4 linked regions of the Homo sapiens genome follow. The protein of the gene in region 2 interacts with the protein of the main gene of each other region in a pairwise test. Each region holds a gene or a part of one and is shown on either strand. Other genes may lie near its edges.

Region 1 (2,834 bases), on a different chromosome or scaffold from region 2:
GGTGAACTGAGGCACAGGGCAGTACTGACCATGGGGCTGAGGGCAAGTCCCAAGTGTGCAGACTGTGCGTTCATGGCGCCCTCACCTGCAGCCTCCTGGCACAGTGGAGCACCCTCGTGCAGGAGCTGGAGGCTGCCCTGCAGCTGGCTTTCTACCCGGATGCCGTGGAGGAGTGGCTGGAGGAAAACGTGCACCCCAGCCTGCAGCGGCTGCAAGCTCTGCTGCAGGACCTCAGCGAGGTGTCTGCCCCCCCGCTGCCACCCACCAGCCCTGGCAGGGACGTTGCTCAGGACCCCTGAGGGGAGAGCTCATGCCAGGGGGCTCCTGCTGGAGGCTGGGGGGGCTCTGCACTGCCAAATGGCCTGGGCAATACGGGCCCACGTGGGCGTCGTGCCCTCTGGCCCAGCAGTGTCTTGCCCACACTCAGTTCCTGAGGGCCCTGGGCAGCCCCTGGGGGAGAGACTAGAAAACACAGAAGGAAGCAGCACAGGGAGACCCGCTTTGTGATCTGCATGTGTGACACTGATTCTTTGGAAATAAAGAGTGGAAGCTGCAGGTGACACGTGAAGGGTTATTTATGGTTATGATGACCCTGTCCTGCAACGAGGGACTGGCAGCCACTACTGAGGAGGAGGGTCCCATCTCTCTCCTGTCGGCTTTCACCGAGGTCACAGCCAGACGTGGGGCAAAGGTGTTCCCTGTCCTACCCAGCCATTCCTGGGCCTGCCGCCTAGGGGCTCACAGGGCCCAGGAGTCCCCAGCTCACAGGCCAGGGCATCAGGCCAGGCGCGCTCGGTGCACACCGCACCTGGGAGGACCTGGGTACACTCAGGAGACCAAGAGCACTGGCGGGTCAGGATGGTTGGCGTTCAGCTCCTACGGGGTGGGGAGAAGTCTGTAGCCGAGAGCCCAGCCCCCTCCTGCCAGGTCTTCCCAGGTTCGAGAGAGGCTGGAACTCAATTTCTGCAGAAAATCTCCCAGTTTTTCCTGTTTGGTTAGTTTTTTTACAAAGACAGGATCTTGCTGTGTTGCCCAGGCTGGTCTTGAACTCCTGGCCTCAAGCAATCCTCCCACCTCGGCCTCCGAAAGTGCTGGGATTACTGGCATGAACCACTGCGCCCGGCTGGAGCTCCCGGTTTTTAAGCACTGCACGATACTAGAAGAGCTGACCTTTTTTCTGGCCTCACAGCTTATGCTGAAGCTGAGTGTGAGGAACAGAGAGACCTTTCTGTGACGACCGCTGGGGCAGAGTGGTCTATGCGCCGAGATCCTGGCATCAGCAAGGGAGGCGGGTCCTCGGGGAGGGGCAGCTTCCACAGTGTGGCTGCAGCGTGCACAGCCAGGTAGGCCCTGGATGTTCACCCCTCACTGCCCTTGGGGAAGCACCTGACCGCTGGGGATGTCCACCAGGGAGAGGACGCTGTGTCGGGGACAACATGCAGCATCAGCACCCACAAGGGCCCGGCCTGGCCCCGCCTCTCCACTCGCCCGAGGTCTTGCTGTGGCCCAAAGCAGGAGTCCAGGGCTGGCGAGACCTCCGGCTGCAGAAAGGCAGGCCCAGGCCTCACGATGGAGAAAGTCTGGATGTCCTGGTCTGGCCTGCTGTTTCATGCAGTGTGCAAGCAGCAGCATGAGCAGGCAATAGGCCAACTCGGCTGGAGGCACCAACTGAAGCCAAGGCCACGGGTCCTGTGGGCGGTGCACGGGCTCAGGCACACCGGGAATGTGCCACGGGTCCTGTGGGCGGTGCACGGGCTCAGGCACACCGGGAATGTGCCACGGGTCCTGTGGGCGGTGCACGGGCTCAGGCACACCGGGAATGTGCCACGGGTCCTGTGGGCGGTGCACGGGCTCAGGCACACCGGGAATGTGCCATGGGTCCTGTGGGCGGTGCACGGGCTCAGGCACAGTGGGGCTGTCAGCTCTGGCTTGCAGGGTCACCGGCCTCACTGTCGCTGCTCTGAGACAGCTCTGTGGGGCTCTCAAGGCAGTGCAGCTCCAGGAAGCTGGTGATGAGCTTGGCGATGGCTTCCACATCACTGGGCGAGGCCGGCAACGGGAGGAAGGTCAGGTCACCTCGGCATAGGGCACCGTGAGACCCCACAGCAGTCTCCTCCTCGACCACCTACCTCCCGCAGACCCTGGAGCTCCCAAACTGGACCCAGCACTTCCTGGCCTGCTCCCAGCCTCCCCGTCACAGTGGGGCTGCCCCTGAGCCTGCACACGCTTCCCGTGGGCCCCTCTGTGTCCCGTCCACAAACTCATCTCCTCTCCCAGCTGCCCCATAGCTCTGGGCAGTCAGGAACGGGAGTGACCTGCTACGGCTGCAGCTCCGGCCAGATCAAAGTCCCACAGCCTTACCTGCGGTGGCCCATGACTGCACTCTGCGTGAGGGGGTGGGAGAAGCCCGTCGCAAGCCGGAGCACCACCATGTAGCCTTTCCCGAAGTACCGGACCTTCTCCTCCTCCACGCTCACATCACGGACATCATGGAGCAGGACCACCACTGCGGGGAGACGGTCAGTGGCCGAGCCATCCCCGCCCACACATGCTGCCCGGCAGTCGCACCAGCGCCACTGGCATCATCGAAAGCGACAGCCACACTTGGTTGGCAGCAAAAGCATTTGCTGTTTCCTGCCTGAGGCTGGGCCCCGGAGGACTGCTGTGGCCCTGAAGGCAGTGCAGGGTCCTCTGGGTGGGAAGGACGTGCCCGCGGTGCAGGCTGGCGGGTCACATGCACAGCCCGCTGGTTCTCCTGGGAGTGCCGACTGCGGGGACCCGCTCAGCGCGAGGCCATCTTTACACTGCACTGTTCCTCCAGGTCTCCCCAAGGT
Region 2 (2,662 bases):
CAGCTGAGGGGAGCAGGGATGGGAATAGGGCAAATGATAATTCCATAGCACTTGCTGTTCCTAAGAGATTCAGCAGCTTTTCGTGAATAAACGCTCCTCAGATTGCCGCAAGACTTTGGTTAATTTCCAGAATTCTAGAAAAATTGAGGTTAACAGGTTTTTTACCAGTGTTTTCATTGATTATATGAGTAGAGATTCTTTGGAGGTCCTTCCCATGCCAGTTTTGCTATGTCACTCTACAAGTGCTTTTTTGCCATGTTTTTAAAAGATAATAAGTTGAATTCATGACTTCCAAGGACCCCTCCCATTCTAGAGTGTTCAGTATTAATAGGTCTCATTCCCCAGCCATCCTAGGTGATAGAATTTACTGTACCATTTTAAAAATAAATGTGATTGTTTAAGATAAACTGAAATAGACTTTAAACAGTGCCAAGATATGAAACATGATAAACTGTACTTAATTATCAACCTCTGCCTTGTTTTATTCACAGATTTGAAAAGGAAACATTACTTTTCTGGCACAGTTTCTTAGCTTAAAATGAATTAGTCTAAAGAGGTAGGAGATCTTAAGCCAATATAGATACAATTTAAGCCCCAGAGACTATTGAAAGGGTAAAAATCAAGTAATTGACTGACAGCATTTCACAGAGTTGAATCATCGGCATATATATTTATTGAATGGCTTACTTTTTTGAATAACTAATACATTGTTATTAACTATAGTCACCACGTTGTATTGTAAACCTCTTGAACTTATTCCTCCTAACTGAAATTTTGTATCCTTGAATGGTTTACCTCTAAATCTTTTTTTTTTTTGAGACAAGGTCTCCCTCTGTTGCCCAGGCTGGAGTCCAGTGGGGCGATCTCAGCTCACTGCAACCTCTGCCTCCCGGGTTCAAGCAATTCTCATGTCTCAGCCTCCCGAGTAGCTGGGATTTCAGGCATGCACCACCATGCCCAGCTAATTTTTGTATTTTTAGTAGAGACAGTGTTTCACCATGATGGCCAGACTGGTCTCAAACTCTAAACCTCAAGTGATCTGCCCGCCTTGGCCTCCCAACGTGCTGGGATTACAGGCATGAGCCCCCACACCCAGCCAGTTTGCCTCTAATTCTGAAATCTATTATAATTATTATTACTAAAATATTAATATATTCATGCTAATTATTCACTAAAAGTCCATTTTTGTACTAAGTACCGAGCACATAGGTAAGGAATCAGCTAAACATGATCCAAGGCTGTTTTATATCAATTTCTTCAAAGATAGATGTGAGAAAATAGTGCCACATTATTTGGTAATGATGTTAAATGAAGTTGCCATGCAAATTAATTTTCCAGATGTCTGAAGCCAAACCTTTTTAACTTAACAAATTTTGAGGTGACTCTTCCCGAACTATGTAAAATATTTCTCTGCTTCATCAGGAAGCTAATGATCTAATGTCTCAGGAGCAAGTAATCATTTTGGACAGTTATCTCATTGTCCTGTAAAACAGTAGCAGCCACCTTGCTCTGTGCAGAAGTACTCACTGGTGACATAATGCTGTGCTTCTGGTGTTTTCATACTCTTTCATGAAGTGTTGTGCCTCGTACTTTTCCATTAATATCTGCTAATCATAGATTTTCCATCTATTTTTAATTTGATCTTTCTACTTTCTAATCTGTGAACTGACACATCAGACAAGAGATTGTACCTACTGGGTTCTTAACATGTATGAGGCACTATTCTAAGTGTTAAAATGTGTCTGTGCATTTAATCCTCCCAACATCTCAGACAGGTAAGCACTATTATCATCTATGTTTTTAGACAAGAAAACTGAAGCACAGAGAGATTAAGTAACTTGCCCCAAATGACATAGCAGTTCATGATCTTAACCATTATACTATACCGTTGAAGTGGCATCGTTCCTCTGGGGTAATACCCAAGGTTAGTTGTCTTAGGCCAAGGAAATCAAGGATGCGAACACACAAGGAGTGAGGTTAAGAGTGGAGGTTTAATAGGCACAAGAAAGAGAAGAACTCTCTCCTGCAGAGAGGGTTCCCGAGTGGGTTTTCCGGTCCACAGCAAAATGCAATAGGTTTTAAAGATGAGCTTGAGGAGGCGGAGTCTGATTTACACAGGGCACGAAAGATTGGTCAGATCAGGTGTACCATTCGCATAGTGCATGAAAATCTGGCCACCCCCCACCCTAATCTTTTATTGTGCAGATGGTCCTCTACTTGGCTGGCACCATATTACCTGTTTCTTTACTGTATACACAAAGACAAGGGACGATGGACCCTCCATGTTGAACATACGTGGCCCCCAGGTAGCCCTTTTCTGTTGGCACAGCTGCTGGCATTCACCTGTGCAAGCTTCCAGCTTGCTTGTCTATGTCTACAGCTCAATTTTTCAGGCAGTTCTATTAATGATTTTGGAGCTGCTTTTTGTTAAAAGGGAAATTCCACCGAGGACTCTTTTACCCTCACTATCTGCCTAAATAATTTCTATCTCCTGTATCACTGTGTCATATAAAGATGCTTATTAAAACAACACATAAACCTAAGAGTGAATGAGCTCTTATAGAATACTTGAGTGGAACTCTTTGTAAAATACTTAAATTTTGGTGAGTTGTCTTTGTGATGTCTATGTTAGTTTCCCACAGAATGTATGTCTATGTCTGTG
Region 3 (3,500 bases), about 14 Mb from region 2:
TTTGAAATGAATGCAAAAACACATTGTACTAAATCCTGCAGGTTACAGCAAAAGAAGTGCTAAGAGGGAAGTTTATAGCATTAAATGCCTACATCAAAAAAGTAGAAAGATCACAAATTAACAACCTAACATTGCACCTCAAGGAATTAGAAAAGGAACAAACCAAATCCAAAGTTAGCAGAAAAGAAAAAATAAAGATCAGAGCAGAACTAAATGAAACAGGGACAAAAAATTTACAAAGGATCAATGAAACTAAAAGTTCATATATTAGTTCTTGGGATCAATGAAAGTAAAAGCTGATTATTTGAAAAGATAGACAAAATTGATAAACCACTAGCTAGATTAACCAAGAAGAAAGAAGATCCAAATAAACACAATCAGAAATGAAAAAGACATTACAACTGATACCATAGAAATGCAAAAGATCATCAAGGACTATTATGAACAACTGCATGCTCACAAACTAGAAAAACTAGAGGAAATAGATACATCCCTGGAAACACAAAATCCCCCAAGATTGAACCAGGAAGAAATAGAACTTCTAAACAGACCAATAATGAGTAGTGAGATTGAATCAATAATAAAAAACTCCCAAGAAAGCTTAAGACTAGATGTATTCACAGCCAAATTCTACCAAACATACAAAGAAAAACTAATACCAATAATCCTGAAACTATTAAAAAATCAAGGAGAAAGGAATTCTCCCTAACTGATTCTCCGAGGCCAGGGTCACCCTGATACTAAAAACCAGACAAGGACACAGCAGAAAATGAAAACACAGACCAATATCCCTGTGAACGTAGATGCAAAAATCCTCAACAAAATACTAGTAAATCAAATCCAATGGCACATCAAAAAGATAATACACTATGATCAGATGGGATTTATTGCAGGGATGCAAGGATGGTTCAACATATGCAAATCAATAAATATGATACCCCAGGTTGCTGGATTGCGTGGTTTTTCAGTTCTTTGAGAAATCTCCATACTGTTTTCCCTAAAAGTTGTATTAATTTACATTCCCACCAACAATGTATAAGCATTCCCTTTTCTCCACATCCTTGACGACATCTGCTGTTTTTAGAGTTTTTAGACTTTTTTTTTTTTTTTTTTTTGTGGAGATGGAGTCTTGCTGTGTTGCCCAGGCTGGAGTGCAGTGGCATGATCTCAGCTCACTGCAACCTCTGCCTCCCAGGTTCAAGCAATTCTTCTGCCTCAGCCTCCCGAGTAGCTAGGACTACAGGTGCGTGACACCATGCCCAGCTAATTTTTGTATTTTTAGTAGAGACAGGGTTTCACCATGTTGGCCAGGATGGTCTCGATCTCCTGATCTCGTGATCTGCCCACCTTGGCCTCTGAAGGTGCTGAGATTACAGGCATGAGCCACCATGCCCTGCCTAGACTTTTTAATAATGGTCATTCTGACTGGTGTAAGATAGTATCTCATTGTGGTTTTAATTTGCATTTATCTGGTGATTAGTGATGTTGAGCATTTTTCATATGTTTCTTGGCCACTTGTATGTCTTCCTTTGGAAAATGTCTGTTTATGTCCTTTACCCACTTTTTAATGGGATTGTTTTTTCTTGTTGAGTTGTTTGTGTTCTTGTAGATTCTGGATATTAGTCCTTGGTCAGATGCATAGTTTGGCAGCCCCTTCCCCATCGGGCACCACCAGCAGCAGTTGCTATCATGGCCTTGAGGACTGCCGCATGGAACTTACATGTTTTAATTTTGCTGCTGTTAAACATTACACACTTTGCAAATTTTGCGGAGTAGAATATTAAAAGAAAAAACAGGTAAGCCATTAGGTTCCTAGGGCCTTTCTTTTAATTAATGATTTCAGAAAGCCAAAGGGGACCAGGGAGGGAAGAACTTGCTTTGATGAGACTCTTTGATCAGTGGAAGGTGTCTGAGAAGGAATCTAACTTTAGTGAGAACTTATTAATAATTAAAAACAGACCTCAAAATCTCTTGAGAATTTACTATATGCCAGGCCCTGTGCTAAGCACTTAACAGGTATTGTCTTATTAATTTCTTACAACCATGTAGGGTAGAGTTACTGTTTTCATCTTCATTTTCCAGAGAAGAAGACAGGCCTAGTAAGGGTCAGTAACTTGCCCAAGTTCACACAGCCAGTGAATGATGGAGCCTGTCAGGCTGCATTGTTAATCACCATGAGGATCTACCTCTAACTGGGGGCCTGGCCCTTTACGTGCATTAACTCATTTAATCTTCACAACACCCTTGTGTGGATGTTATTATCACTGTTCCCATTTGACGTAGTGAAGACAGTGTGGAATACTGGTTCTGAGCATGGACCTTGAAGCTATGGCTTCTGGGTTCAAGACTCTGCTCTTCCATTCACCAGCTGTGTGACCTTAGTTACTTAACATCCTTCTGCCTAGATTTTTCATCTGTAAAATGGCTTTAATTATATAACTTATTTTGTAGATGTTATGGAAATTAAATGAAGTAATTTGTGCATGGCATTTAGAACATGACCTGGTAAGTATTATTTAAATTATTACTACGATAGAGAGAAAACTGAGGCTCAGAGAAGTTAAGCCCAGGCTACCAGCCTGACAGTGGTGAGATTCTAGGAAGACAAATAGTGCCAGGGTTCATTCCCAGAGATGAACTCTAGGAAGCTGGTCTCATTTATGTTTGGTTGTGATGACTCCAGGATGCAGCTGCCTGTTGAGAGGTAGCACAGTGTGGTGGTAAGGAGCATGGGTTTTAGAGCCAGATGACCTGGGAGCATGTCGTCGTTCTGTCACTCACTAGTCATATGACCTTGGGCAAGTTACATAGCCAGCCTGAGCCTCACATCCTCATCTGTAATGCATCAGTTGTCACGTTCCTCATGGGCTGTTGTGAGACTGAAGGAAGTTCACTCACATATAGAGGGCTTGGGGCCTGACACAAACTGGGTCAATGTGTCTGCTCTGGTCATGATGCTGAAGCAATAGCTCAGTGGGAGAAACGGGAATTGACGGAGAGTCAGGTAGACATGGTTGGGTGTGTCGCCTGAATGGAGAGAGGAGAACTGGGAAGAAAATGTTAGCAGAATAAAGCCGGGGCAACAGAGCTTGCCAGGGCATAGAACAAGGGCGCAGGTTTACTTGTCAGAGGCCACCAGTCCTGGCTAAAATATTTCTGGTGGAACACATTGAAGATCAGTGTGCTCATGGTTTAGGTGTGGCTGTCACAAAAATAAAAAGGGAAGAAGAAAGGGAAATGTGTCATATTTCCTTTGGTAGAAACATGAGTCCAGGTTCTAATTCTTTTCAAAACAGGGCTACTGCAGTGTTTTTCAACAGTGTGTAGGTGGTGGCAGCTCCTGGATTTCACCAGTGTTTTCTGTGGACAGCCATCCCAACCACCAAGTTTTTAATGAATGCTGTGATGTTTTGATTTACTTAATTATTCCATGTAAATAAAACAGCTTTATCAGACAAAATAGGACTATACCATGAGATTATAACATAAAGTCAGAAGCA
Region 4 (3,500 bases), on a different chromosome or scaffold from region 2:
TAACTTTCAATTTCTGGCTGATTTTTATATTTCAGATTCCACCCATCAACACGGAGGCCAAGGAAAATTTAATGAGCCAAATAACTTATGGCTCTTCAAATTACAAGATCTGTGGGTTTTAAAGTGTCATTGTGACTTGAACTAGCTGTCTTTCTTTCAAACAAGACTTACTTCAAATGTGATGGTCCAGCACCTCAGTCCGGCTTGATGACTTGTGCTTTTGTTTTTCCTCTCTGCATCAGTTAGCTGGCACCTCGGGTTTTGAATTCAGTTCCCTGGACTGTAAGGGGTTGAAGATTTGATTTAACTTATATTTAAAAAGGCAATGATCCCAGAACAGCAAATAATTCCTCAAGGAGCTTATTGTGTAATAAGGAGGAGATAAACACTGTCAAGACTCGCACTGTAATCAGTGCTGCCACCGAGTACAGGTGATGTCTCTGGAGATGGAGTAAAAAACACCCCATCCTTGGTGAAGGGAAACAAAGAAGGCCCCACCGAGAAGTGGGTATTTGGTGTGAACCCTAAGGGAGGGAGAGATGGAAAGAAGGAGAGGAAAGATGCTTGCCTCATAGTGCTTGCCTCCCCTCCTCTCCACAGATGGAAAGAAGGAGAGGAGGCAAGTATTATGAGGTAGGAAACCTGGAGGTGTTAGAGCACAGCAGGTATTGGATCAAGCTGAAAAACAGACAAAATGAGGACATTCTCCACAGGTGTCCACAGACTCAGTTACACGGAAGTTTATTCTGATCAACACATTGGCCATTTTACTGAGAACTAAATGTGATTTGGTGTTGACTCCTTTCTAAACTTATAAAAATAAAACTCAGATCTTAAAAATTCCATTGTCAGCATAGGTCCTAATCTGTGGTCCGGAAAACATCTGGGCATCAGGCCCACAAGGGGGTTAATGGGCTGTGGACACTGGGGTGCAAAGGTTTTCTGAGGGGAAGAGTGGTGAGATCTGGGCTTAAAAAGATGAATCGAGATGCAGTGTGTAGGAAGCATGGGCAAGGGATGAGGAACGCCACTTTGAAAATTACTAAAACTAAAGCAAGTGACTAAGAGTGTGAATGACCCTGGCTGCAATGACTACGCCTGCTGGGCTTCGTAAGTAATTATGGGTGTCTTCTGTTTTTGTCAGTATCACAAGGGAGCTTGACTCGAGCAAGGGAATGTATTATATGACTTTTGAAAAGGGTATCTTTTAATTAAGGTTTTCTTTAATTTTTCAGTATTAAAATTAGACTCTATTTCCTGAGCACCCACAAATGGACCTGACAAAGGGAAGACACAGATGTACTGCGTGATGAGGAAAGCCTATCAGGATTAAAATATGGCTGTGAGTAACTGTGGTCCTTCTTTATACTTAAAATAGCTGCCATGTGTTATTATGAAGGCTTCTGATGGTGGTATCAAAATCCTTTGAAATAATAGACTTGCACAGATTTCCCTGGTCATCTAAAAGAAAGATGTCATTATTCAGTTAAAAGCAAACTTGCACATTTTCTAAGAATCATTTTTACCAAAAAGGGACATTTTACTGCGAGACAGACATTTAAAAATTTACATGTCTTGAGATATTTTTGTATTGTGGTAGCAAAATGATTACATTTATTTCTTTTTCTCCACCTTATAATAGCTGATGCTTCCTTCAACTTATACATGCTGTTGGAGCTTTCTAAATCGGTAAATTATTGATTAGCTGATTGCAGGTTTAAAATCAAGCAGACTCTTCCAGGGATTTCAATCAGTCCTGGGCAAAATTGTGAATTAGTCAGCATTGGTTTCTGGATCTCTTTATCCCTTTAGCAACCACCTCCTGATTGTCTCTACCCACCATCCCTCATCCCTCCCCTAGGGCTCTCCAGTGGGCCCCCTGTTCACACCACCATGCCTGTCTTCCTGTCCTGTCCAGGAGTCCCTCATTCCCAGCTAGGTCTTCCTTCAATCGCCTTTCTACTTACCACACTTTCCCCTCCTTCAGGTGGGAACGGTCCTCACAAATTCCTGCTAGCACATTAATGTGCCACTTTCCTAGGTAAAATATTGCAATTTAGTAGGAGACGTTGATACTTTGACCAAAAGCAGTTATTTTTATAGGAACTTGGGCACCACAGTGTGCTGGGAGAGGAGAGGATTACAACTCCCAATGTGCTACAGAGTTTTAAAAATTCTTTCACCTCTATTTGCTCATAATTTGGTATATCAGGAAAGGTTTGGTGATGAAGACATTGGAGTATACACATATTTATATTTTAGGAGGCTTCTCAATGCAAAGAGGGTTAACCTTTCCTTTGTACCTTGCCTTTTAATCAGTAGAGGATGGTAAAACTTCAAATTAAAACTGATTTTAAAAATCATTCTAATACTTGGCATCCTCGTGCAGAATCTGAGTCCCAGAGTCATTCCTAGGGTGACTGAAGAGGCAGATATGGCAGATAATCTGAATCAGGATGAATAAGTTATTTGCTGGAATTTCTGGAATGGTTGCCTACCACTGCAGCCCCCAAATGAATGGTTTGCTCGCTGTAAATCCTGAGTTGTGGGTGAAGCCTAGAAAGTATGAGAGTTGATCCAGGAGAGAAGGATTTGGCATTTGCCCTGTATGGAAGAGAAGGCTGGGGAAGACTACTCCTGGGGTCACAATGTTGCTCATCAAGTGGAGATCCCCGGTGGGAAGGGAGGGACTGAGCAAGGTATCACCGTCCTAGTCAGCCTGCTTGTGCTGAGGAGGTCATTCTCAAGGACTCAAAAGGTTCTCTATCTAGTTCTTACCTGAATTTTTGGATTTCACAGATCCAGAAATCCTTACATCAGTTATACAGTTAATGGTCTTTTCTCTTCTTATATTTCCTTTTTGGATTATATGGTGTTTTCCTAAAGAACTTTCTGAAAATGGCCAGGCATGGTGGCTCATGCCTGTAATCCCAGCACTTTGGGAGGCTGAGGTGGGTGGATCACCTGAGGTCAGGAGTTCAAGACCAGCCTGACCAACATGGAGAAACCCCGTCTCTACTAAAAATACAAAATTAGCTGGGCGTGGTGGTGCATGCCTGTAATCCCAGCTACTAGGGAGGCTGAGGCAGGAGAATCACTTGAACCTGGGAGGCGGAGGTTGTGGTGAGCTGAGATCGCACCATTGCACTCCACCTTGGGCAACAAGAGCGAAACTCCGTCTCAAAATAAAAAAAAAGACTTTCTGAAAATGCATACCTGTCTCGGCTTTGTTGAGAATGGACAAAGAACAGGACTCTGGCCTCATTTGGGCTGGATGGAAAAAGGGCATAGAATGAGATTCTGATAATCCTGCAAGGAGAGCAGGAATCAAAGTGAGAGGATCCTCAGTAGGATATGAAAAAGCAAGGAGTATGTCAGGGATGGCCTCAGCATCTGCTCCTCTGTCATCAGCGGGCTTTCCTTTGGCCCAGCCCTTGGAGAATTTTATATTTCATATGATTAAGTATAGTTTGAATATTTTTGGTGGACACAGATGGCCC

Evidence for each region.
Region 1: the proteins of TSPAN12 (region 2) and CYBC1 interact in binary tests that used the Homo sapiens proteins (3 or more experiments, as listed by UniProt).
Region 3: the proteins of TSPAN12 (region 2) and TMEM140 interact in binary tests that used the Homo sapiens proteins (3 or more experiments, as listed by UniProt).
Region 4: the proteins of TSPAN12 (region 2) and CTXN3 interact in binary tests that used the Homo sapiens proteins (3 or more experiments, as listed by UniProt).

What each region holds. Positions count from the first base shown.
Region 1 is NC_000017.11:82,442,086-82,444,919, forward strand, and holds the end of CYBC1 (cytochrome b-245 chaperone 1), read right to left. Parts: intron 2,507-2,834; coding exon 2,362-2,506; intron 2,040-2,361; coding exon 1,919-2,039; 3' UTR 508-1,918; downstream 1-507. Other genes in the region: HEXD (hexosaminidase D), read left to right, coding at 92-507. UniProt on the Homo sapiens protein: Functions as a chaperone necessary for a stable expression of the CYBA and CYBB subunits of the cytochrome b-245 heterodimer. Controls the phagocyte respiratory burst and is essential for innate immunity.
Region 2 is NC_000007.14:120,789,483-120,792,144, reverse strand, and holds part of TSPAN12 (tetraspanin-12), read left to right. Parts: intron 1-2,662. UniProt on the Homo sapiens protein: Regulator of cell surface receptor signal transduction. Plays a central role in retinal vascularization by regulating norrin (NDP) signal transduction.
Region 3 is NC_000007.14:135,151,072-135,154,571, reverse strand, and holds part of TMEM140 (transmembrane protein 140), read right to left. Parts: intron 1-3,500.
Region 4 is NC_000005.10:127,652,082-127,655,581, forward strand, and holds part of CTXN3 (cortexin-3), read left to right. Parts: intron 1-171; exon of another isoform or gene 172-280; intron 281-968; exon of another isoform or gene 969-1,110; intron 1,111-1,235; 5' UTR 1,236-1,342; intron 1,343-3,500.